Regions from separate parts of the Homo sapiens genome. Here region 2 is linked to region 1. Evidence: fine-mapped expression QTL. A gene starts in region 1. The other region holds a variant in brackets. All regions are shown on one strand. Distances are between the middles of the regions.

Region 1 (12,131 bases):
GTTCAGTGATAATGAAATACCATAATCCCTCTGCATGGAATTTCTTGCAATGGCCCCTCCCTGCCCTGTCCTTTCCCCTTTACTGTCTGACAAGCTACTACTCAACCTTTAGATCATAGCTCAAGCATCACCACCTCTATCATTTCTTCCTTTCTCCAGGCTCATTTAGGTGTTTTTTCCCGTTTGGTCCCACTGCATCTTATGCTATGCAGATCTCCATTATCTTTTTTTTTTTTTTTTTTTGCATGTCTGTCTCATACTGTACTCTGGGTACCAGAATGATAACTTTTAATTGTTTACAGTGTCTGGCACATAGGGATGCTAATAAATGGTGAATATCAGTATTATCATTTTTAGTTCAACAAATAGTTATTGAGTACTTGCTCCATACAGGGACTTTATATGCATTACTTTTCACTCTCACAACAAGTTTGCAAAGTAGATATTCTCTTTATTTTATAGATGAGGAAACTGGAGTTTAAAGAGATTAAAAGACTTACCTAAGCTAAACAACTAATATGTACAGTACTATACTTATATTGGCAATTTCACACCAAAACAAGTACCTGGTCTGTTTTACTAGAACTGGAGCATCGTAAAGCCTTAATCTTACATATCTTTGACTTGACCTTTTTATGCCAGCCATATGATTCTCCCATCTCTAGATATTTTTTTTTTTTTTTTGAGATGGAGTGAGTTTTGTTCTTGTTGCCCAGGCTGGAATGCAACAGCATGATCTTGGCTCACTGCAACCTCTGCTTCCTGAGATAAAGCGATTCTCCTGCTTCAACCTCCCAAGTAGCTGTGACTACAGGCACCTGCCACCACATCTGGCTGATTTTTTTTTTTTTTTTTTTTTTGAGATGGAGTTTCGCTCTTTCACCCAGGCTGGAGTGCAGTGGCGCGATCTCGGCTCACTGCAACCTCCACCATCAAGCGATTCTCCTGCCTCAGCCACCACGCCTGGTGAATTTTTGTATTTTTAGTAGAGACGGGGTTTCACCATGTTGGCCAGGCTGGTCTTGGACTCCTGACCTCGTGATCCGCCCGCCTCCGCCTCCCAAAGTGCTGGGATTACAGGCGTGAGCCACCAGGCCCGGCCTGATTTTTGTATTATTAGTAGAGATGAAGTTTCACCATGTTGGCCAGGCCGGTCTTGAACTCCTGGCCTCAGGTGATCCGCTGGCCTCAGCCTCCCTAAGTACTGGGATTACAGGCGTGAGCCACTGAGCCCAGCCCCATCTCTAGATTTTTACTGAGACATAATTCACATACCATGCAAATCACATATTTAAAGTGTATAATCCAATGGTTTTCAGTGTATTTACATGTACTAAACTGATACAATCATCATCACAATCTAATTATACAAGAATTTTGTCACATCCCTCCAAAAAGAACCCAATATCTATTGAACAGCTGTAGATGTTTAAATAATAGTTGTCCAGGGGCTAGTGCTTTAGGAAGGTTTTTCCCTTAGATGACTGAAATACCATTTTATGTCTTCCTACAGTGATCTTTTAGAGCTATGCTATGTAATACTTTAAGGCTGGGAGACCTTACCATGTTTTTTAAAAAAATTGGGCCTGGCCCAATAAAGCTGGATTCTGGTTCTGCAAATACCAGAATAACACTTTACTTCACAAATATGCTAAATGATGGATTGGTAGGTTCCAGAGTACTGCTTTTCTTTTTTCTTTCTTTCTTTTTGTTTTTGAGGTGGAGTCTCGCTCTGTCGCCCAGGCTGGAGTGCAGTGGTGTGATCTGGGCTCACTGAAACTTCCACATCCTGGGTTCACTGATTCTCCCTCACTGATGCTTCCGCCTCAGCCTCTAGAGTAGCTGGGACTACAGGTATGCGCCACCATGCCCAGCTAATGTTTGCATTTTTAGTAGAGACGGGGTTTCACCATATTGGCCAGGCTGGTCTCAAACTCCTGATCTTATGATCCACCCACCTCAGCCTCCCAAAGCTGTGGTTTTCAAATTTGTCTGCACATTAGGATCAAGTGGGGACCTTCAAAAAATGATGCCTATGTCCCACCCCCAGAGACTGTGCTTTCATTTGTCGGGGTGTGGCCTGGGTTTCAGAATTTTTAAAAGGTCTCTAGGTGATTTTAATGTGCAACCAAGTTTGAAAACATTGTTCTAGGGAAAATGCCAGTTGCTTTCCAGGCTGACCAGAAGAGCGGCAGTTATTTCTTGCTGGCTTTCATGCTTTCTTAGCCTTTTCATATGTGCTTCTACTTTGTCATTTTTGGTTGTTCTCATATGTGTATTTCTAAGGTGTGTTTGAGATTTTAGGTGAGTGAGGAACTAATAAAAATAATTATAGTAATAGCTGATAATTTTTTTTTTTGAGACAGGGTCTCACTCTATTGCCATGGTTGAAGTGTAGTGGTGCAATCACAGCTGACTGTAGCTTCAACCTCCCAGGCTCAAGCAATTCTCCCACTTCAGCCTCCCAAGTAGCTGGTACCACAGGTGCATGCCAACACACCCAGCTAATGAAAACACATTTTTTTTTTTTTTTGTAGAGACAGGATCTCACTATGTCGCTCAGGCTGGTCTTGAACTGCTGGCCTCAAGCAATCCGCCTGCCTCAGCCTCCCAAAATGCTAGGAGCTGGCTAATAATTGTTTAACAGTTATGATATGCCAGGCACCATGCTAAACACTTTGCATACATTATATCATGCATGAATCTTATAAAACACTTATTATTCCCTTTTTGCATATGAGGAAGAGGCTTAGAAAGGAGATTGAGTAACTTGGCCACAGACTCCTAGTTGGTAAATGGTAGAACCTCATTTGACTAACTGCCAAATCCAAGAGTTGATAGCAATGATGCACTGAGTAACAAAATAACAGTGTTTCTCCTACAGTTGAGAGTATGTATAGGGTTCTCTCCAGGGCAAAGGCCTTGCAGTCACCTTGCATGGATACCATGCCTTGGATAGTATCCTTGCATACCACCCTGAATTAATGAATGCTTTACCTGTCTAAGGATATGAATTTATCTACCTTTCACATTGTGCATATACTTAAGAAAAATAAGGCTGGAAGGACAGGGACTAACACTGGAGGCACCAAAAAGACTCTCCTTTTGTAGTTTCTGGGATTGTTGTTGTTGTTGTTGTTATTGTTAAAGAGACATGGTTTCCCTATATTGCCTAGGCTGGAGTGCAGTGGCTATTCACAGATGTCATCCCACTACTGGATAGCACAGCAGTTTTGACCTTCTCCACTTCCAACCTGGGCCAGTTCACCCCTCTTTAGGCAACCTGATGGTCCTGCCCTCCCAAGAGGTCACTGTATTCATGCTGAACTTAGTGCAGACAGTGGATTGATCAATTGATCAGCATAGTGCACCACAGCCCAGAACTCCTGGGCTCAAGCAATCCTCCCACCTCAGGCACTGAGCAGCAAGAACTACAGGTGCACACCACTGAGTCTGGCTACTTTATGTTTTCTTGGGTTGCCTAGATTTATTTTTGAAATAAATTATTACTTTTATAATTAAAAATGGTTATCTTTGGGTTTGGAGATTATAGTTTTAATTTTTTAAATACTTTTCTGTATTTTCTGAATTTTCTAGCAAACATGCATTACTGTTATAAGGTAAAAATATTTTGTAAGCAGGGTGCACATCATTTCCAGTAGAATGCTTGAAATAAAATTTAAAGGATGCCTGGAATTTCATTTCATTCATAAAAAATTATCTGAGAATGAGGTACACGATCTGTATAAACAAAGGAAAATTATCAAAAAGCTATTAGTTTTAATACAAATGTCACAATCACTTGAAAGGTGGAGGAATGAGGTAGTTTTTGTATTCCTAGAAGCTGCCACTGGTTAGAGGTATCCAGCAGCTTATTCCTAATGTAAATGATACCAAGCTAAACTCTGATCGCTGAGATCTTGTGTTTTAGCTTAACCATCCCTTAGCAAGATTGGTTAGTTGTGATAGCAAAAGAGTGCTGAGGATGTGAATTAGGTCCACAGATGAGTCAAGTATCTTCCCCCTGAAATGGGACCACAAACCACACTCTGGCAGGCCACCATCTCACAAAGGCACTAACTTTGATCTAGGAAGGGCCAGTTGAAAGTGTGAATGCATCACCAGGAAAACATCTTCATCACTAAAAAAACAGCTCCATTCCTTCCTCAATATGATGTAGGAATAAAAAAGCACTAACAGGGTCAAGCATGACTTGCTAAACCTTACCTGTCCGGGAGGGGCGCTCTCTGCACCCAACACCTGCCTATAGAACACCGGATCACAGCTCCGCAGCGTGTTCTGGCGGCTGGCCAGTGGACTGGCTGCACCAGGTTTCTTCAGCAGCGGGTCGCTGCGGCGGGAGTCCGTGGTGAGATACACCTGATGGTAAAGGTGCGGCGACATCAGGCCTCCCCGCACGGCGTCCGCGTGCAAGGAGGGCCCTGGTGTTCGGTACAGTGAGCTCACCGGGGCTCGGTATAGGTCTCTAGACTGCTTCCACTTGTAAACTTTGAATATGATTACTCCGAACACTGTGACCACAAACCCCACAGAAACCAGGATTAGAGAAAGAAGTAGATAAAAGGTGAGATTTTTTTTCTGCTCCCGGGGGGCAGAGCCAGAGGGGAACTCGGCTCGGGCTTCAGGAGAGTCCTCGGTTACTGACACAGTGAGGGTAGCAGTGGTGGAGAGCGAAGGCTCCCCATTGTCTTTGATCAAGACCGTGAGAGTCTGCCTGGGTGAATCTGTGTCTTGGACTGGACGGGCAGTACTGATTTGACCAGTGTGCAGCCCTATGGCAAAAAGGCTCTGGTTAGGGGATCCCAAGAGACTGTAGGAGAGCCAGGCATTGTGCCCTGCATCCGCGTCCCAGCCTACCACCCGTGACACTAGGTGGCCAGCTGAGGTACCTCGAGGCAGCATCTCCACCGAGCTCCCACCTGGCCGAGGATATAGGACCTGGGGGGCATTGTCATTGCGATCAGTGACAAATATGTTCACGCTGATGTTGGTGGCTAGGACCGGGGTGCCCCCATCGCTGATATGAGCTGTTAATTCAAATTCCCGCCGATCCTCATAGTCTAGGGGCACTAAGGATGACACTATGCCATTGTCACGATTTATTGTGAAATAGCGACCCACTAGCCCGGTTTCAGCTCCTTGCTCCAAGAGAAAGAAAGAAAGCCGAGCATTCTGCGGGGCGTCGGGGTCCCAGACACTTAGGTTTAGTATTGGAGCCCCGGGGAGGTTGTTTTCTTCAATGTAAACGTCGTAGGAAGATTGAGAAGATTGTGGAGGGTTGTCATTGATGTCGGACACTTGAACACGCACTATTGTAAGGGCTGAGAGGGAAGGGGTTCCGGCGTCTCGGGCGGTGATGCTGAGGTTGTATTCTGGCACAGTCTCCCGATCCAGGTCTGCACTGGTTTTCAAAGTGAAGTAATTCTTGAGGGAAGAAGTAAGGCTGAAAGGGAGACCCGGTGGAACTTCGCAGGTCACCAGCCCGTTCTCGCCAGCATCCAGGTCAGTCACACTGAGCAAAGCGATGACAGTCCCCAGAGGGGCATCCTCGGGTACTGGGCTGTACACGGAGGTGACTGTGATCTCCGGGGCGTTGTCATTCACATCCACAACCTCCACCAACACTTTGCAATGTGCTCCTTCGGGATTGGCGCCCTTGTCTTTGGCCTGGATGTAAATCTCATGGAGTTTGGTGTCCTCGAAGTCCAGCCGACCCTTGATTGTCAGCATCCCGGTTACAAGGTCTAAGGCGAATAGTTGCCGCACGCCGGCGCGGTTGTGGCTGCCGAAGGAGTAAATAATTTCACCGTTGGGGCCTTCATCCAGATCCGTTGCAAGGACTTGTACCACGCGCGTGCCGGAGGGTGCATCCTCCAGGACGCGCGCCCGGTACAAGGACTGGTTGAAGACAGGCGCATTGTCATTCGCGTCCAGCACCTTGATGTGAATAGGCAGGCTGGCGGAGAGAGCTGGGGTCCCTCCGTCCAACGCCGTCAGCACTAACTGGAGACTAGGCTCCCGTTCTCGGTCCAGGGCGCGCTCCAACACCAGCTCCGCGTACTTGGTGCTGTCCTCCCGCGTCTGCACGCGAAGCGCAAAGTATTCATTTCGGCTCAGCTCATAGGTTTGTAAAGAGTTGCTTCCCACATCGGGATCGTGCGCGCTCTCGAGCGGAAAGCGCGTCCCCGGAGCCACGGCCTCGCTAATCTCCAATTTCATTTCCTGGGTAGGGAAAGCAGGATTGTTGTCGTTGATGTCCTGGATCACCACTTCCACGCTGAACAGCTCCAGCGGGTTCTCCACTACCAACTCCAGAGTTACAGTGCAAGAGGGCAGTGTCCCACACAGCTCCTCTCGATCCAGACGGTCGTTCACAAACATCTCTCCGGTCTCCCGGTTCACCTCAAAGAATCTTCGGCTAGCTCCAGACACCACCCGGAACCTGCGGGCTGAGAGGCTACCGAGATCCAAACCAAGGTTCGCGACCACGTTGCCCACAGCGAAACCCTTCTCTCTTTCCTCCGGGATCTCATAGTGAATGACCGTGGAAGCCTTGTTCAAGGCACCAAGCAGAAGCAAAACTCCCACTACCCTCCCGGTGCTTACCAGTCCGCTCCTCCAGGCCTCTGGGACCATCTCACTCAAAAGCAGTTCCTCTCAGCGGGGTCCAGATCGTCCCTGAGATTTCGCTGAGAAACTTTCAGCGGGTTAGCGCTTGGGCGCTGGGCGCCGAGTCCGACATGGCTTTCTGGATGCCGTTGATTTGCTCGCCGGCTGTTCAGTCTCTGCCTCATCCCGGGGCGCAGAAAGGGGACGGGCAGGGGCCCGATCTCCAGCGTCTTCATTGGCCGACAGCGGCACACAGAGTCCCAGCCAATAACTGCACGAAGAATGAGCTAGCGCCGGGCTCTCTGAGCAGGACACGCGCTAGCGCCAGGAACTTCACTTTCCTTTGGCTTCCTTCCAGAGTTTCCAGCCAAAGCGCCTTGCCAGTATCGGTGCATAGGAAACCTACCTTAGGGAAAGCCAGCCTTGGGGCTGTGAGGCTAGCCGTTCTGCAAGTCTCCAATCCAAATCAAGACTCATTAAACATTTGAATCACTTTCTTTGATCACAAGAAAGGGGATCGAACCAAACCGAAAACTACACAACATTGTCTGGAAAAACACCAACAAATCTGGCTTGTTGGAAGACAGACAATTAGCCGGACCCTACTTGTAAGGAGGCATTTAGCATTTCCGTGGAGACATTAATAATTTCAGTTTTATCTCTTACCAAATGAAATTAGCATTCCCTGTCACTTCCTCATTATCTGGAGCTACTATCAAATTAGCAGGAGTTACAATCTATTGGTTTAACTCTGGCTTATAAAATTTAAAAGTACAATTCAGATTTTATTTCTTTTAAAACTGGATGTCATTGTTAGCTCTCATTTCTTAAGAACCAGGGAGCAATAAGAAATTTCCCTACCCTGTCTTTCACAAGGAGCATGATCTCAGTTGTAGAGCACACTCTCTCTATCGTTTCCCTTTACTTGATCAATCCTTTTCCCAAGATCTTGGGTACCATATGCCACAAGAAGTTGCACTGCTAATGAAGAAGAAGACGGAGAAGATTTCAAAAAGAAAAAAAGCCAGGCCTATTTACCACCTAGGATCTTTATAAAATTATTGAAATAATGGCAGCAAAGCTCCACAAATCTTTAGAAAATACAAAGCCTTTAGTCACAGAATAAAGAGCCTTAACTTTTCTGCATTTAGAATTGTTGTCACCAAACAAAATTATAATGATTAGGATAGTGAATAAAAGAGTCCACTGTGATATAAGCCAGAGATGAGATGTATATCCTTGAACAAGAAATGAACCTCTAAGAGTTCCTGCTCCTATCCTATTAAATGAAGAAGGCAGGTAAAGTGCCTGGCACAGAGTAAGCCTCAATTAATGATGCAAACCACTCCATTAGATGTAAAGTGTTAGAGCCTCATACTATTTCTGTATATTTGTCTTGGACATCACTTTGATTGCATAGAGTCCTTTTGAAGTATAATAGAACCTTGAACATAAGTGAAGGGGTAGGCACATAGGTTAGGTAGGTAGAAAAGAAGTAAGGATATATAGGATATTTCCGGAAGAGATGAAAAGCCATATGTGACCTATATTTCCATGTCTTTAACACTTCAATTAATCTCTGAAAACCCCCAGTTTTAAATGCTCAAGTTTGATAATTAGCCAGACCAGCAAGAGGGCTGATAGGCATTAGAAGATAGAATACATTTAGAATTTAGAATAAAGAGTATAGCCCAATCACTTGCTACTCAAAGTGTGAGGACCAATGGTCTAGGCATCACCGGGGAGCTTGTTAGAAATGCAGAAATGCCCTCCTCTAGACCTACTGAGACATGACTTACATTTTAACAAAACATCAGGGTGATTTGAAAACACATTAAAGTTTGACAAGCACTGATCTAGTGGGTTATTCAGAGATACACTGGTTTATCAGTCTTTTTTTCCCCTATTCAGCATCACTTAATTCACAATCTGGTTTTTGAAAATCAGCTTTTAAAAATGTAAGTAGTTTTCTCAATAATAAGGCCTGTCATTTTCTTGATAATAAGGCCTGTAGTTTTCTGAGATTTTCGTTGTTGTTGTTTTTGTTGTTGTTTGTTTTTTGGTTTTTGTTTCTGAGGCAGGATCTCGCTCTGTCATCCAGGCTGGAGTACAGTGGAATAATCATAGCTCACTGTAACTTCCAGCTCCTTGGGCTCAAGGGATCCTCCCGCCTCAGACTTCTAAGTAGATGGGACTACAGGCCTGAGCTACTGCACCCAGCTCATAGTTTTCTTAAGACCTCTTCATGAACCAACAGAACCCTTGTGTATGCATTCTCCACAATAGCGAGGTTCATCTTCCTAAAATTTTAATTGGATCACACAATTGTCCAGCTGCTCCTCAGTAGCATCATACTGCTCTTGAATTAAAATACCAAATCCTTTGCATAGTATCCAAGTTCTCATGTCTTCTCCCTCTCTCACTATATTCCATTGCACCACTTGGAGGGTGGTCAGAACCCCAGCCCTTCCCTGTCTCAGGGCCTTCACACAAATTGTTCCTTTGCCAGGAAAGCTGCTTTTTCCTCCCTCCCTTTGCTTTGCTAATTTCTACAGGTCTGTCTGGTCTTAGTTTAAATGTTATTTCCTAATAGAGGTCTTCCATTAGGCCCCAGTTAAAACCAGGATCCTTTGTTATGCTCTCTCAGAACACCTTATATTTTTTCCATTGAACTTGGCACAACTTTAAATTTTATAATTATTTTTGCATAAGCAAAGTATCTGCTTCCCCCACTGAAGAAGAAAAAAAGAAGCTCCAGGAGGGCAGGGACCATGCTATTTTGGTGGCCACTTGCATCCTCACTGTCTAGCACAGCAGGCACTTAATGCTTATTAATATAGCAATCTTTATGCTACTGACATAGTAAAATAATCATAGCATACACTAAGGACTATATATGTATTCACTTGTGTGGATCCAATCTCCCTGGAAGTAAGCATTTTTTAGAAGATACATTTACTCCTTCAAGTTACCAGTGGGCCTTCCTAGCCCTAGTGATCTGAAGAGATAATATAGTTTGCCAAAGAGCCAAGTAAAGTGTGGTAATACAACTCACAGTGGATAATAAACAAAGATGCTGTAACTTGTTGTATCACTTCTTTCTTTCTTTCCTTCCTTCCTTCCTTCTTTCTTTTTCTTTTTCTTTCTTTTTTTTTTTTTTTTTGAGTTTCACTCTTGTTCCCCAGGCTGGAGTGCAATGGCATAATCTTGGCTCACCACAACCTCCTCCTCTTGGGTTCAAGCAATTCTCCTGCCTCAGCCTCCCGAGTAGCTGGGAATACAGGCATGTGCCACCATGCCCAGCTAATTTTCTATTTTTAGTAGAGACGGGGGTTTCTCCATGTTGGTCAGGCTGATCTTGAACTCCCAACCTCAGGTGATCTGCCAGCCTCCGCCTCCCAAAGTGCTGGGATTACAGGTGTGAGCCACAGCGCCTGGCCTGTATCACTTATTTCTAGGGGAAATGGAAGGACCAGTATACAGGATTTATATACTGATTCAACACAATTTCCCAGTCTTTATCTTTTTTCTTCTTTGTTTTATAATTTCAAGAGAGCTTCTGACCAATGAGATGCAGCATTTATAATATAATTTTTTTTTTCTTGAGATGGTGTCTCACTCTGTCACCCAGGCTGGAGTGCAGTGGCACGATCTCGTCTCACTGCAAGCTCTGCCTTCTGGGTTCAAGCGATTCTCCTGCCTCAGCCTCCCTAGTAGCTGGGATACAGGTGCGTGCCACCACGCCTGGCTAATTTTTTCTATTTTTAGTGGAGACGGGGTTTCACCGTGTTAGCCAGGATGGTCTCGATCTCCCAACCTCGTGATCTGCCTGCCTCGGCTTCCCAAAGTGCTGGGATTACAGGTGTGAGCCACTGTGCCCGGCTATAATATAACTTTAAAATAGAAAGTGAATGTATTATATGATCGAGAGTAAGGTCTTAGTGTCAAAAAGATTCAAATTCCAATACTGGATATTACACCTAGTAGCTATGTAACCATGAAACTTTTATTTTTAACTTCTCTTTTATTTTCTTTATGTATAAAATGGGAATAATAATAGTACTCATTGATATAACCACAGACATGTCAATCATTTTTAAAATCTTTTCACAGCTTTCTACATACAATATAGTGCCCCTATACGATGCAGGGATTTTTAATAAATTTATACAGTAATGCAACCAACCCCACAATCCAGTTTTAGAAAACTCTCATCACCCCCAAAATTTCCCTCATGCTTGTCTGTAGTCAATCTTCCTAGCTTCAGCCTCAGGCAACCACAGTTTTGCTTTTTCTGAATATTTTATTAAAAAGGAATTATAAAATAGGTAGTCTTTTATATGTCTTTTATATGACATAGCATAATGTCAAACTCATCTTTTGACCACACCCTCAAATATGTTATGTCTCCAACCTTCCTTACCTGGTAAGTGGCACTTCTATTCCAGCCAGAATTTCAGAAGTAATTTTTAATATTTTTTTCTGCATCCCCACATCCAGTATATTACTAATCCATACCAATGCTTACTACTCCCAAAATATATTTTGAAACTATCAATTACTTACCCTATCTACTGCTACCCCTGAGTCAAAGCAACCTTAAATGCTATCATAGCTTCCTCGCTGTTATTTTTACTCCCTCTCTTGCATTCCCTAAATTCCATTTCACATGCAGAGACCTGAGTAATCTTTCAAAAGGTACATGAGATTATACACTTTCCTTGCTAAAAACATAACTAAGCCTAGCTACGTAACTTGTAGGGTCAGTGCAAAATAAAAATAGGGGGCTTGGAGGCCGGGCGCAGTGGATCATACCTGTAATCCCAGCACTTTGGGAGGCCGAGTTGGGTGGATCACTTGAGGTCAGGAGTTTGAGACCAGCCTTGCCAACATGGTGAAACCCCATCTCTACTAAAAATACAAAAAAATTGCCAGGCATGGGGGTGGGTGCCTGTAATTCCAGCTACTAGGGAGGCTGAGCCAGGAGAATCACTTGAACCCAGGAGGCAGAGGTTGCAGTGAAGGTAAGATCGCACCACTGCACTCTAGCCTGGACAACAGAGGGAGACCCTGTCTCAAAAAAAAAAAAAAAAAAAAGAGGGCTTGGGCTTGTTAATAAAAATGATTGACCAGGCACAGTGGCTCATGCCTGTAGTCCCAGCACTTTGGGAGGCTGAGGTGGGAGGATCACTTGAGGCCAGGAATTTGAGACCAGCCTGAGCAACATAGGGACAGTCCCATCTCTACAAAAAACAAAAACAAAAACAAAAAAACAAACAAACAAAAAACTTATCTGAGCATGGTGGCGTGTGTTTGTCGTCCTAACTACTCAGAAGGCTGAAGTGGGAGGATTGCTTGAGCCCAGGAATTCAAGACTGTAGTGAGTCCACTGCACTCCAGCCAGGGCGACAGAGCAAGACCCTGACTCAAAAAAATAAAATAAAAATTATTAAGAATTTCAAGATGGTAACAGCAGAGCCCTAACCAAAGGGTAGGGGCCT
Region 2 (10,065 bases), 38 kb before region 1:
GTGGGACTGTTCTCTTGTAGTCAAAATATTTATCTGGTTCTATGGCTACTTTTCAATAGTCTAATAACAAGTGAGTAAGTTGGGGGAAGCATGGGGAGGTCAGTTTTTCTTGACTGTTCAACCTGCTGAGCATAATGGTGAGTGAGTGGAAAGCTGGGAGACCTGTTCCAACAAGAGCTTTCTCATCCCCTGACCTTAGGCCAAATCACACCCTCCCTGGTGTATAGGCTTTCAAGGCTTAAAAGGGAAATTTTGATCTTCTCCCTACCTACTCTCTGCTCCTGGTTCTTATGAAGTTTGTAATACATCAGAAGCTTCTTGAGTCCAGAAAAGTCTAGAAACACCACTTGGTTAGGTACAACTGGTATCTTCTTATTTTGGAGGAAGAAACCACAGAAAGCAGCAGCTAAAGACCTACCACATGGGACCTCTGCCTTCTCCTGTGTTGCCCAGGACAAGTGGCCCAGTGTTCTTTTCCCAAGGTCTGGAGTCAGATGTTATTTCAACATATATATACCACTAGAGTTACACACACACACACACATGCACAGAGTCGCAGTGTCTTCTCAACTGTTGGAGACTGAATTCAAAGAAATAATAAAATGATAGGAAACTACTACCCTTCTGGATATGAGAAATGGGGTCTAGAGAGGGAGTACTTCAGAAGAGAGTGGAAATGTAGGAGGCCTGAGGAAGATTTTGGTGGTAAGGACAGTATGAGAAATGCACACATGTAGACCATCATAGTCACACTCACGTAGGCTCCTTTTCCTCACTTGTCTCAGTCACGGGGCATTAGTTTATGTTCATAATCCAATAAATGGTTTTGTGAAAATCCCACAGTCTCGGGCACATACCTATGATCTGTAACTAGATAAGTCCTGTGGCTGTCAGTCAGGGTCTTCACTATTCTTTCTCCTCTTGGTAGACAACCTCTTGTGCCCCTGGGAAGTAGAGGAGGAGGAGGAGACCTTTAAATTGGTAACCTGTGTGCATGCTGCGTGTTCCCTGCTTGATCTATGGGCAGCCTCTCCTGGGATGAAAACAGTAGCTCTGGGTCATGGCTCTGCAGGGAGAGAAGACCTGGTTAAGACTTGGGCTTTGGCAGGCTGTGGTGACTCATGCTTGTAATCCCAGAACTTTAGGTTCCAAGGTGGGAGGATTGCTTGAGCCCAGGAGTTCAAGACCAGCCTAGACAACATGGAGAGACCCCATCTCTGCAAAAAAATACAAAAATAGCCAGATATGGTGGCACATGCTTATAGTCCCAGCTACTAGGGAGGCTGAGGTGGGTGGATCACTTGAGCCTGGGAGGTTGAGGCTACGGTGAGCTGTGATTGCGCTGCTGCACTCCAGCCTGGGCGACTGAGATTCCATCAAAAAAAAAAAAAAAAAGACGGGCTATCTGATCCTGTTTGGCTTCTGCCTACCTAAAGCTTTTTGCTGGTCCAAAAAGGCGCTTCATTCCAGTCATGCAGCTGCCCCAGTCTTGGTCTTTATTTAGGAGTGCTCGGCTCTTTCATCTGGTCCTGCTTCTAAAACATTCCGGTACTGCTTTCTCCACTCCAGCTTTCCCAGATCTCCAGGAAGTCTTTTTTTTTTTTTTTTTTTTCCAATTGAGCTATCATTTACATACCTAAAATTCACCTTTTAAAAATGTATAATTCAGGGGTTTTAGAATATCCACAAGATTGTATAACCATTACTATCTAATTCCAGGACGTTTCATCATCCCCAGAAGAAAAACTTCATAATCCCCATTAGCAGTCACTACTGATTCTCCCCTCCCCTTGCCTCTGGCAACCACCAGTCTATTTTCTATCTCTGGGTTTGCCTGTGCTGGACATTTCGCAGAAGCTGACCCATAACATATGGCCTTTCGTGTCAGGCTTCTTTCGTCCCAGACAGCTGTTTGTGTATACACAGTTGCTCTGTGCTGTTCTGGGGCATGGGAGGAGGAAACATCATGAGATGGGCATGGTCTCAAGGAGTGGCCTTCCTGCTGCAGATACTGGGGCCATAAGCCTAGATACCATAAATGAATATGAGAGTCTTGGGGATGAAACCCAGCAGTTAGAACAGAAACTCGTGGATTGATTTGGTTCTTCTTTTCTAATCTGGTATGACAGCCGGAACTTGACCATCTCTTAGCCACCTGGGCTGAGATTTCTTGGTAGGGGTCCTCTCCTGTCCATCTTTATCCCAGTTCTGCTTCCCTGGCATAGTTTTTATTACTACCTCCCCCCCGCCATGCCACCCCCACATACTCTACACACCTTGTAGGGCCCTTGGCATTTGTATTACGGCTGCTACCTTTGAAGGGGTGGGAAAGAGCTAAGGCATGTGGGCATCTGTTGTTGGAGGAACACGTGGGAGTGCGGTGTCAGTGCGTGGCTGCTGTTCCTCTTTGCGGGAGTCTCTCCAGCCACTTACGGAAGGTTGCCTTCTGCTAGGGACAACCCTCCCAGGGCTGACTGAGAAGTGTTTTGGCCTAGGAGTTTCCTGGGACCTGTCAAGAAAACAAAAATAATACTATGTACTAAACTTTAGTCTATTTAATTCCAACATCCCTATTACGAGAAAATAGACTTTGAATACTTCATCTCTCCTTAAGTCACATAGCTAACACTTCAGCCCAGTTCTGTCTGTCTGTGTTCAAACTTTTGTGCTGTTTTCACACAGGGAAGCAAGGGGGCAAGGCTTGCTTTCCTGTTGCACCACACTCTCTTACATTCTTTGCCACCCAACAATATATTCCACATGCTGGATCTCTGCCCCTTTCTTCAAAGTAAGGGCCTCTGTGAAGTGGCCAAGGTAGTCATGTCTGCATGGCTTACGCTGATTATCTGCTGTAGAGTTTGAAAGAAATTAGAAATGAGGCCTTCCATAGACAGAATCTCTCGTCTTCTCTTGCAGCCAACAGGAAGGCCGGGTGTGCAGTCACATCTCTGCTAGCTTCGGAGCTGACCAAGGATGATGCCATGGCTGCTGTTCCTGCCAAGGTGTCCAAGAACAGTGAGACATTCCCCACAATCCTTGAGGAAGCCAAGGAGTTGGTTGGCCGTGCAAGCTAATGTGGGTCCTGTGACCGCGGCAGCTCCTCAGCGGAGCCGCAGACTGTCCTGCCCTGCAGCATGTGCCTAAAGGCTCAAGGGGATATTCCTCTGGGGTGGCCACTCCCACCACCCTGACCCTGTCTTTCTCTCTGGCCTGCTGCTCTCTCAACATCACATACAGCTTCAGCTGCCTGGAGGCCAGAAGGAAAGGGCAGTGCAGGGGAGGCCTGAGCCCGACTTAGCCAGCCCTGGCTGTTGTATTACCAAAGCAGGGTCCATGTTTGCTGCCTTAACCCTGTCTCCTCTCTGTTACTCAGAGGGCCTCATCTCAGACAAGGCCCAGCCTGCTTTTTCTCAGCCCTGACTTTCTAATGGGCTTTCCCCCCTAGGTCAGTCTTGCTGGATTTGTGCTTTTCTTTTGTGGTTTCTCTGGCCCTGAGAATAGCATGGGGCTTGTAAACCTTTGGGCTAGATCCCTCCTTTCATTGCTGTTGTCTCTGCTCTTCCCTCTCCTGGCTGTGGTTATTTATTATTAGTGGTGTGGCACTGGGAGCTGCTCCTAAGGAAGCAGGGAGCAAATCCCACCTTTACCCCACCTTCCTGGGAAAGGCCTCCAAAGCAAAGGATCTGGACCAGTTTCCCTGCTGTGCTGTGGCCCAGGCCAGAGCCTGTGGGCAGGCAGGCAGGGCATAGCGACAGTGTGGGACCTGCCCCCAGCTTCTGCCACGCTTTATGCCCTTGCCTCTCTGGACGCTCTGCACCAACCCCAGGCTACTGAGCCACCTTCCCTCCTCATGCCTTCCCTGAGCTTTGGTGCATCTCATCTGGACTATGGGTTGTACTGTGACCATCCCAACACCTCACCCTCTGTCTACAAGGAAATGGGAGGTGGAGCCTCCTGGCTGAGAAATTGTTTTGCAAATGGATCTATTTTTGTATGAAAAAAAAAATTTTTTTAAAGAAAACTGTTCCTTCCCCCTTTCCCCTCCATAATGTAAGAAGCTTTGGTGGCAGGTTACAGAGTTCTGGGATTTCTTCTCACAGGCCCAATCCTGAATGTGCCCCTGGACCTTCTGGACCCTTGAGTCCAAGGCAGATCCTCTCTCCCAGGGAATCCGACACAGGAGGAACCCCTTCTCTGGTTGAGCTGGGCCAGGCCTAAGAGTAGCAGGAACTCTAAGACCACAGAGTTTTTTATAAATGTATAAATGTATCAAGCCAAATGTGCAGATGCTAACTGGACATTCTGGGGAACTGGGCACCAGGAGTGCCTTCATACACTGTACCCCAGCTCTCTTCTAAAAGAGAAGTGGGTGGGCACACTGAACTGTTTGGTGGCCCCAACCACAGGAAGCTGCAATTCT[C/G]TGGCTTAGGGTGATACTTTTGCCCTCCTTGTGCCCCTCTCAGCTTTCCATCCCCAGCTAGGAAGAAAGAATGGCACTCTTGGGCTTGGCCCAGAATTAGAGTTATTAGAGCAAGAGAGAGCTTAGGAAGCATGAGGGCAACTATAGTGAGGCCTTATTGCCAGGAGGGAGGGTTTTGGTTGCTGGCGCTTGTGTATAAAGGGGCAAGAGCAGCTCCTTTGGACTATTCCTGGGAGGACTCTGATGCAGGGCGTCTGTTGCTCCCCTGGGTCACCTCCTCCCTGCTCGCTGACATCTGGGGCTTTGACCCTTTCTTTTTTAATCTACTTTTGCTAAGATGCATTTAATAAAAAAAAAGAGAGAGAGAGAGAGGTGTGAGGGACAAAATGCAAACCTATTTCCCTTGCCTCATAGGCTTCTGGGATGTCATCACCTCCAGTTTGTTGGTTTTGTTTCCAACTGTTAATAAAGCATTGAAACAGTACTGCCTTACAGCTTCCTGTGTGAATTTCTGAGCTGTTTTCTTTTCACTCTAGTCCAGGCTCCTCTAGTCTTTCCTGCCTCAAATCCCTGGTTGACCTGACAAATCACTGTGAAAAAGCTAAAGGTGCCAGACACTTTACTTGGGCACAGGGCTAGAGATGATTAATACATGGTGGCTGCTGCCCCACCAGAGCTCACCTCAGGGCCGTTTGGCCACAGTAAAGGAGTGGGCGCCTGGTTCAGCTCCCTGACTCTTCCACATTGCTGCTACTTGGTTTGGAGCCCTTTTTTGGAACTCACTTGGAACCTTTCATGTTCCCAGATGTCACGCAAGGTTTCCTGGCAGTACCTGTGTCTCTTGCTGAGGGAAGCATCTGGCTCCCATTTTCTCATCCCCTCTGCTCTGTTGGTGGCCACAGACCACATTCCAGAGTAGAGGGGTTTACCCTGGGGTGGAAACCTGAGCCTGCCCAGCAGAGGTTGGGAGCCTGAGGTCATGCTCCAGATGACTTGCCACTTGGAGCCATACTTGTCTGAGCACGTTATGACCTGCACAAAAAAGCCAGACCAGCAATGAGCAGGCCCAGGATAGACAGGGAGAGGCCTGGAGAGGACCACAAACCCATTCGGGCGGGCTCTGGAACTGGAAATAAAAGCCTTTTAAATAGCCCTGGAGCCTGGGCAGCTGCCTCCTCAGTATGGCCTGAGGTGTGGGGATGGGTTGCCTGCCGCCTCCCTCCCGTCCCCCCGGAGGCCACGCCTTTCTGGTTCAGAGCTTTATAGGCACACATACCAATTAGGGGACAAACCACAGCTGCTCACGCGCTCTGCCAGTCTGCTGCTGTGCCTGGAATAGAACCCAGGCGCCCGGCACCCCGCCCCTCCGCAGCCTGGCTCTGAGTAACAAAACCCTGCTTCCATCTCAGCAACCGTGCACACCACCCTTCCTCCCACGCTAGAAAGTCGCCCCCAGATTCTTAAGTTGGAAGGTTTGGTTCCCATGACAACAGACTTGAGCTGGCAGAATGGGTGACCTGGCTCTGGGAGCCTCCGCAGCGCGGAGGAAGCCGCATACCCTTGCTGACCAGCCAGATAACCGCAGTGGCTCTGTCTTTGTGTTCTTGGGTCCTTCCGGGTAGTTCCCCTTTTAAGTCCCCCTTCACCCCCAGCTCCGTGTTTTTCTGCAGCTTCTCTGGCTGCAGCAACCTCGGAATCCCACAGTGCTTCGAGGAGGCAGGCGGAGGGGGCGGGGAGATGGGAGAGCAGGCGAGTGAGTGGAAAAGCACCGACAGGAAGGAGGGAGGGGAGCTGAGTCTGCGATGGATCTCATTTCCTGCACGTCCTTTCAGTCCCCTTGACCCCCGCAAGAAGAGGATGAGCCCTCCAATTTCTTAGGCTTCGCTACGGAGATGTCAGCGGGAAGGCGAATTCCAGATGGGGAAACTGAGGCTCGAGCTGCAGACTTGGCTTTGGAAGAATCACCTCCCGCATTCCCTCCCACTCCCGCGGCTTTCCCAAAACCCCTAGGCAGCGGGGGTGGGGGTGCGGGGGCAAAGGAGAGTCTACCCTCCTCCCGTGAAGCCCTCCGGGGCGCTTCGGGTAGGCAATTTTAGTCAGGAAGGGGCGGGAACTAACGAAACGTCCTCTCCCCTCTACCCAAGGCGTTTGCCCGGCGCCAACCCGCCCCCGCCCGCGCCGGGGTCTCCTCTTCTGCCTGGAGACAGCCGCAAGCTTAGACTGCACACTCCACTGCACACTGACACGCCGCACTCAGATCCCCACCCCCACAGCGGACCGATCACACAATGGCACACGGTACACAGATCCATAGGCACACAATCGCACACTGTCTCATAGGCACAACGGCATTGCAAGCATACACAACCATATTGCACAGTCACACACACACACGCAATTCGGAAACATCTAGACGCGCAATGACACAAAGTGGCCTCCCGATTCCGCCCTTCTTCCAGCACCCACCTCAGCTCATCACTTCATGCACACATGCCAGGAGCTTCCATCGCTTATACAGAAACGTTCAGCTTTTCAGAAGAAACGTTTTATTATTTTTTTGTCGAAGAAAAAAAGCCATATAAATATTAGAGTATAAAACTTGCGTGAGACACAGGAAGAGGGTGGGGTGGGAGCTACGTGACTATGCGAAGAGAAGCGCTTATAGGAGAAGTCAGTACGGGGGAGGGGGTCGCCTTAGCGCGTGGACACAGCACAAAACACAACACGGGCCGCCGCGGGCAGATCAAGGACAGACGGCTGCGCGGAGCCCGCCGCCCGCTGCCCACCCGCCATCACGTAAAAGCACACCGCACTACACTACTGGCTATTCTACACCAGCCGAAAGAGGGAGGGGGCGCTACACTACTGTAAGGGCAGGTCTGGGGTTCTCTGGCAGCCCCGCTGGATGGCCGGGGACCCAGGGGCAGAAGGGGGTGGGAGAAGAAGGTCTATGCACAAGGAGGCACTGGGGAACTTTAACCAGGCTATGGCCACTAGGGGGCGCACTGGGGACCTGGGCAGTGGCCTTCACGGAAGAGAAACGGCACCTGGCAAGGTGAAGGACTGAGGCTTCAGGAGGGCAGGGGCCCTGTTGAAGAAGCCCCATCCTGGGCTGAGACTTTCTGTTCATTTGGTCCCTGCCCTAGCTCCCTGCCTCCCCAACCCAGGGACTAAGAATGGCCTGGCTGGCCCACCCTTCCTGCTGGGGCTCCGCTGACCCTTCCACCAGTGGCACCTCTGGAGTACCCAGCACCCACAGAGGCCCCTCTGACCTCTCAAGGGGACCTGGTCCTAAACCTGCTTCGAGCTTCCTTGGACTGAAATGCCAGTTTAATCCATTGGTCCTGTTAGCTCAGCCCAAAGCTGGCTGCCTGGGCTGAGCCCTATTATGTAGTGGGAAGGGTCCAGCCTAGTTATTGGTTTATGGCTGGAATCTGGAGGATGTTGTCAGTCCCCTGAGGACATACAGAGCCTCCTCCAAGGCCTTGATAACTTGATGTGTCAAGCTTTGTCCATGCCCCCACCATCCACATCCACACACTTCCCTTCCTTATCTTACCACCCCATACTGTCTTGGAACATGCAGTGGAGTCTCTTGTTTGAGGAGGAGGTGGGGGAAGTCAAGGCATGCAGTGGAAACGTCAAACAATGAAAAACAAAACAGAAGACTGGTCCCCAGGGCGTTGGGAAGAGGCTTGGTAGCAAAATGCCCTCCCTAAATCCAGCAAGCATCAGTACCATGGGGATGGTGATCATGTCCTCCAAAACTTGAGCATTGATCTTGGGCTCTGGAAGGAGGTGAAGGGGCTGGCACCAAACCATGCTTTGGGGGAAGATTGAGAATCAAAGGAGAGGCCAAGAGGTCATGATGCCCTTCCAACTTTTCAGAACTAGGAGGCTTGTAGGTTACTTGGTACTTCAACACCCCAACCACCTTACTCGGGAAAGAGGAACTGTTGGAGTGGGGTGGGGAGGAGGGAGGCATGGGATGGATGGGCCTGATTGATTTGGAAGATGGAGGAGTTCAGCTGTAACTAAACGGGGTGTGGCAAATGGTTCTTGGTGTCTACAGTAACCCCACTACCCCCATGGGTACAGCAGTTGATTGGATGGGGGTTCCCAGCGGAACTGCTTTTGCATATTCAACCCCCTGGGGGGGAAGGGGTAGGTGCTGACTGGGCACTTGTTTCTGTTTCCCAAGGGGAGCATGGCCTTGGCCCCTACCAGTATTCTGGGGGTTAGCCCTGAAACTCTGAGGCCTGGGTGCAGGTAAGGAGAAGCTGGGCTGGTTGGGGAGAGGCCGCCCTGTGGCTCTTGGCCTGGCCTCCATGTTACTTCTTCTCCTTCTTGCCCGACTTCTTCTTGTTGCCATTGCCACCTGCTGGGGCCTTGCCATCCCGCTTGCCAGCTGCGTTGGTCAGTGTGGCATTGCTGCCTGGGATGTAGACATTCTGGCGGTAGTCGGGCACGTGCTGCAGGGTGAACTGGGGTCCGTAGCGGGCGCTCAATCCCATGGTGCCGGCACCCCCTCCCAGGGTGGAGCTCCCATCAGCAGCTTCTGCAGAGACAGAGGAAGATCAGGTGGGAGCTAAACTTAGGGTCCTCAACAGTCACTGTCTTATATCCCCAGCAGTTAATGAATGCCTATACAGCACCCTGGGCCTTGACCACGCTGAGCACTGGGAATATAGGGGTCACCAAGGTAGTCTCTCTTCACAAGAGTTGAGGGTAGAGGTTAAGAGGCTCTGGAGTGAGAAAGTCTAGGTTTGATTCCTAGCTCCTTTCCTTACTCACTGTGATCCTGGGCAAGTCTACCTAACCTCCTTATGCCACTTCAGTTTTCTCATCTGCAAAATGGGGATGATAATGGTAACCACCTCTTCTGGTTTTAGTGAATGCTAAATAAGAAAATGTATGTCAGGTACGTAAAATAGTGCCTGGTAGATGTAAGTGCTCAAAACACATTCGCTGGTATTTCTCTCAGGGCTGTGACACGGGCTCTCAGTTCCTTGCCCTGGCTTTCTCAAGGGAGCCTCTGACTCCCACACTAGACCATGGGCTCCTGGAGGGCAGCAGCCATGAAACCATGGCTTTACATGCCCCTAGCCTTTGCCAAGCAAGGCCTGGCACGAGTAGAGATTCGGTAGTTCCGTTAGTAAGTGTGTGGGGTGGGGGTGAAGAGTGCTCTTCCAAGCCTCCATTTCAAAACAGCATTTTTTTTTTTTTTTTTTTAAGATGGAGTCCTGCTCTGTCGCCCAGCCTGGAGTGCAGTGGCGCGATCCCGGCTCACTGCAACCTCTGCCTCCTGGGCTCAAGTGATTCTCCTGCCTCAACCTCCTGAGTAGCTGAGATTACAGGTGCACACCACTAGCCCAGCTAATTTTTGTATTTCAAAACAGCATTTGAGCACCTACTGTGTGCCAGGCACTCTGCTGGATGCTTCACATGCACAATCACTTTTAACCTCTACATAACAGCCCAGCCAGCTATGTGGTATGACCCTCATTTTACAGATGAGGGAACCAAGTGTTAGAAGGACCAAGGCCATACCCGGTAGCATTTGTTAGAGGGGCATTCAGGCCCAAGTGTACCTAAGCGCATGCTGGAAGGGACAGTCAGTCACCATCACCACCAGCAGCTTGGAC

The links.
Region 2: its variant is fine-mapped to the expression of PCDHGC3 in blood mononuclear cells (TOPMed, PIP 0.93).

Annotation. Positions count from the first base shown.
Region 1 is chr5:141,470,643-141,482,773 of GRCh38, reverse strand. PCDHGC3 (protocadherin gamma subfamily C, 3) reads right to left here and starts at 6,808. Exons shown (of 4, transcript NM_002588.4): 1 at 4,228-6,808. The coding sequence starts at 6,657. The region is part of intron 1 of PCDHGA1 (protocadherin gamma subfamily A, 1); the gene reads right to left. All of the region lies in intron 1 of PCDHGA2 (protocadherin gamma subfamily A, 2), which reads right to left. All of the region lies in intron 1 of PCDHGA3 (protocadherin gamma subfamily A, 3), which reads right to left. It also overlaps PCDHGB1, PCDHGA4, PCDHGB2, PCDHGA5, PCDHGB3 and PCDHGA6, and 12 more genes. RefSeq lists enhancers at 5,958-6,501, 6,959-7,068.
Region 2 is chr5:141,509,860-141,519,924 of GRCh38, reverse strand. It overlaps PCDHGA1 (protocadherin gamma subfamily A, 1), which reads right to left. Exons shown (of 4, transcript NM_018912.3): 4 at 6,950-8,978. The coding sequence ends at 8,752. PCDHGA2 (protocadherin gamma subfamily A, 2) reads right to left here. Exons shown (of 4, transcript NM_018915.4): 4 at 6,950-8,978. The coding sequence ends at 8,752. PCDHGA3 (protocadherin gamma subfamily A, 3) reads right to left here. Exons shown (of 4, transcript NM_018916.4): 4 at 6,950-8,978. The coding sequence ends at 8,752. It overlaps PCDHGB1 (protocadherin gamma subfamily B, 1), which reads right to left. Exons shown (of 4, transcript NM_018922.3): 4 at 6,950-8,978. The coding sequence ends at 8,752. It also overlaps PCDHGA4, PCDHGB2, PCDHGA5, PCDHGB3, PCDHGA6 and PCDHGA7, and 15 more genes. RefSeq lists enhancers at 2,636-3,261, 3,262-3,887, 4,514-5,139, 5,111-5,360, 5,140-5,765 and 4 more. The variant C/G (reference allele first, on the strand shown) is at 4,421.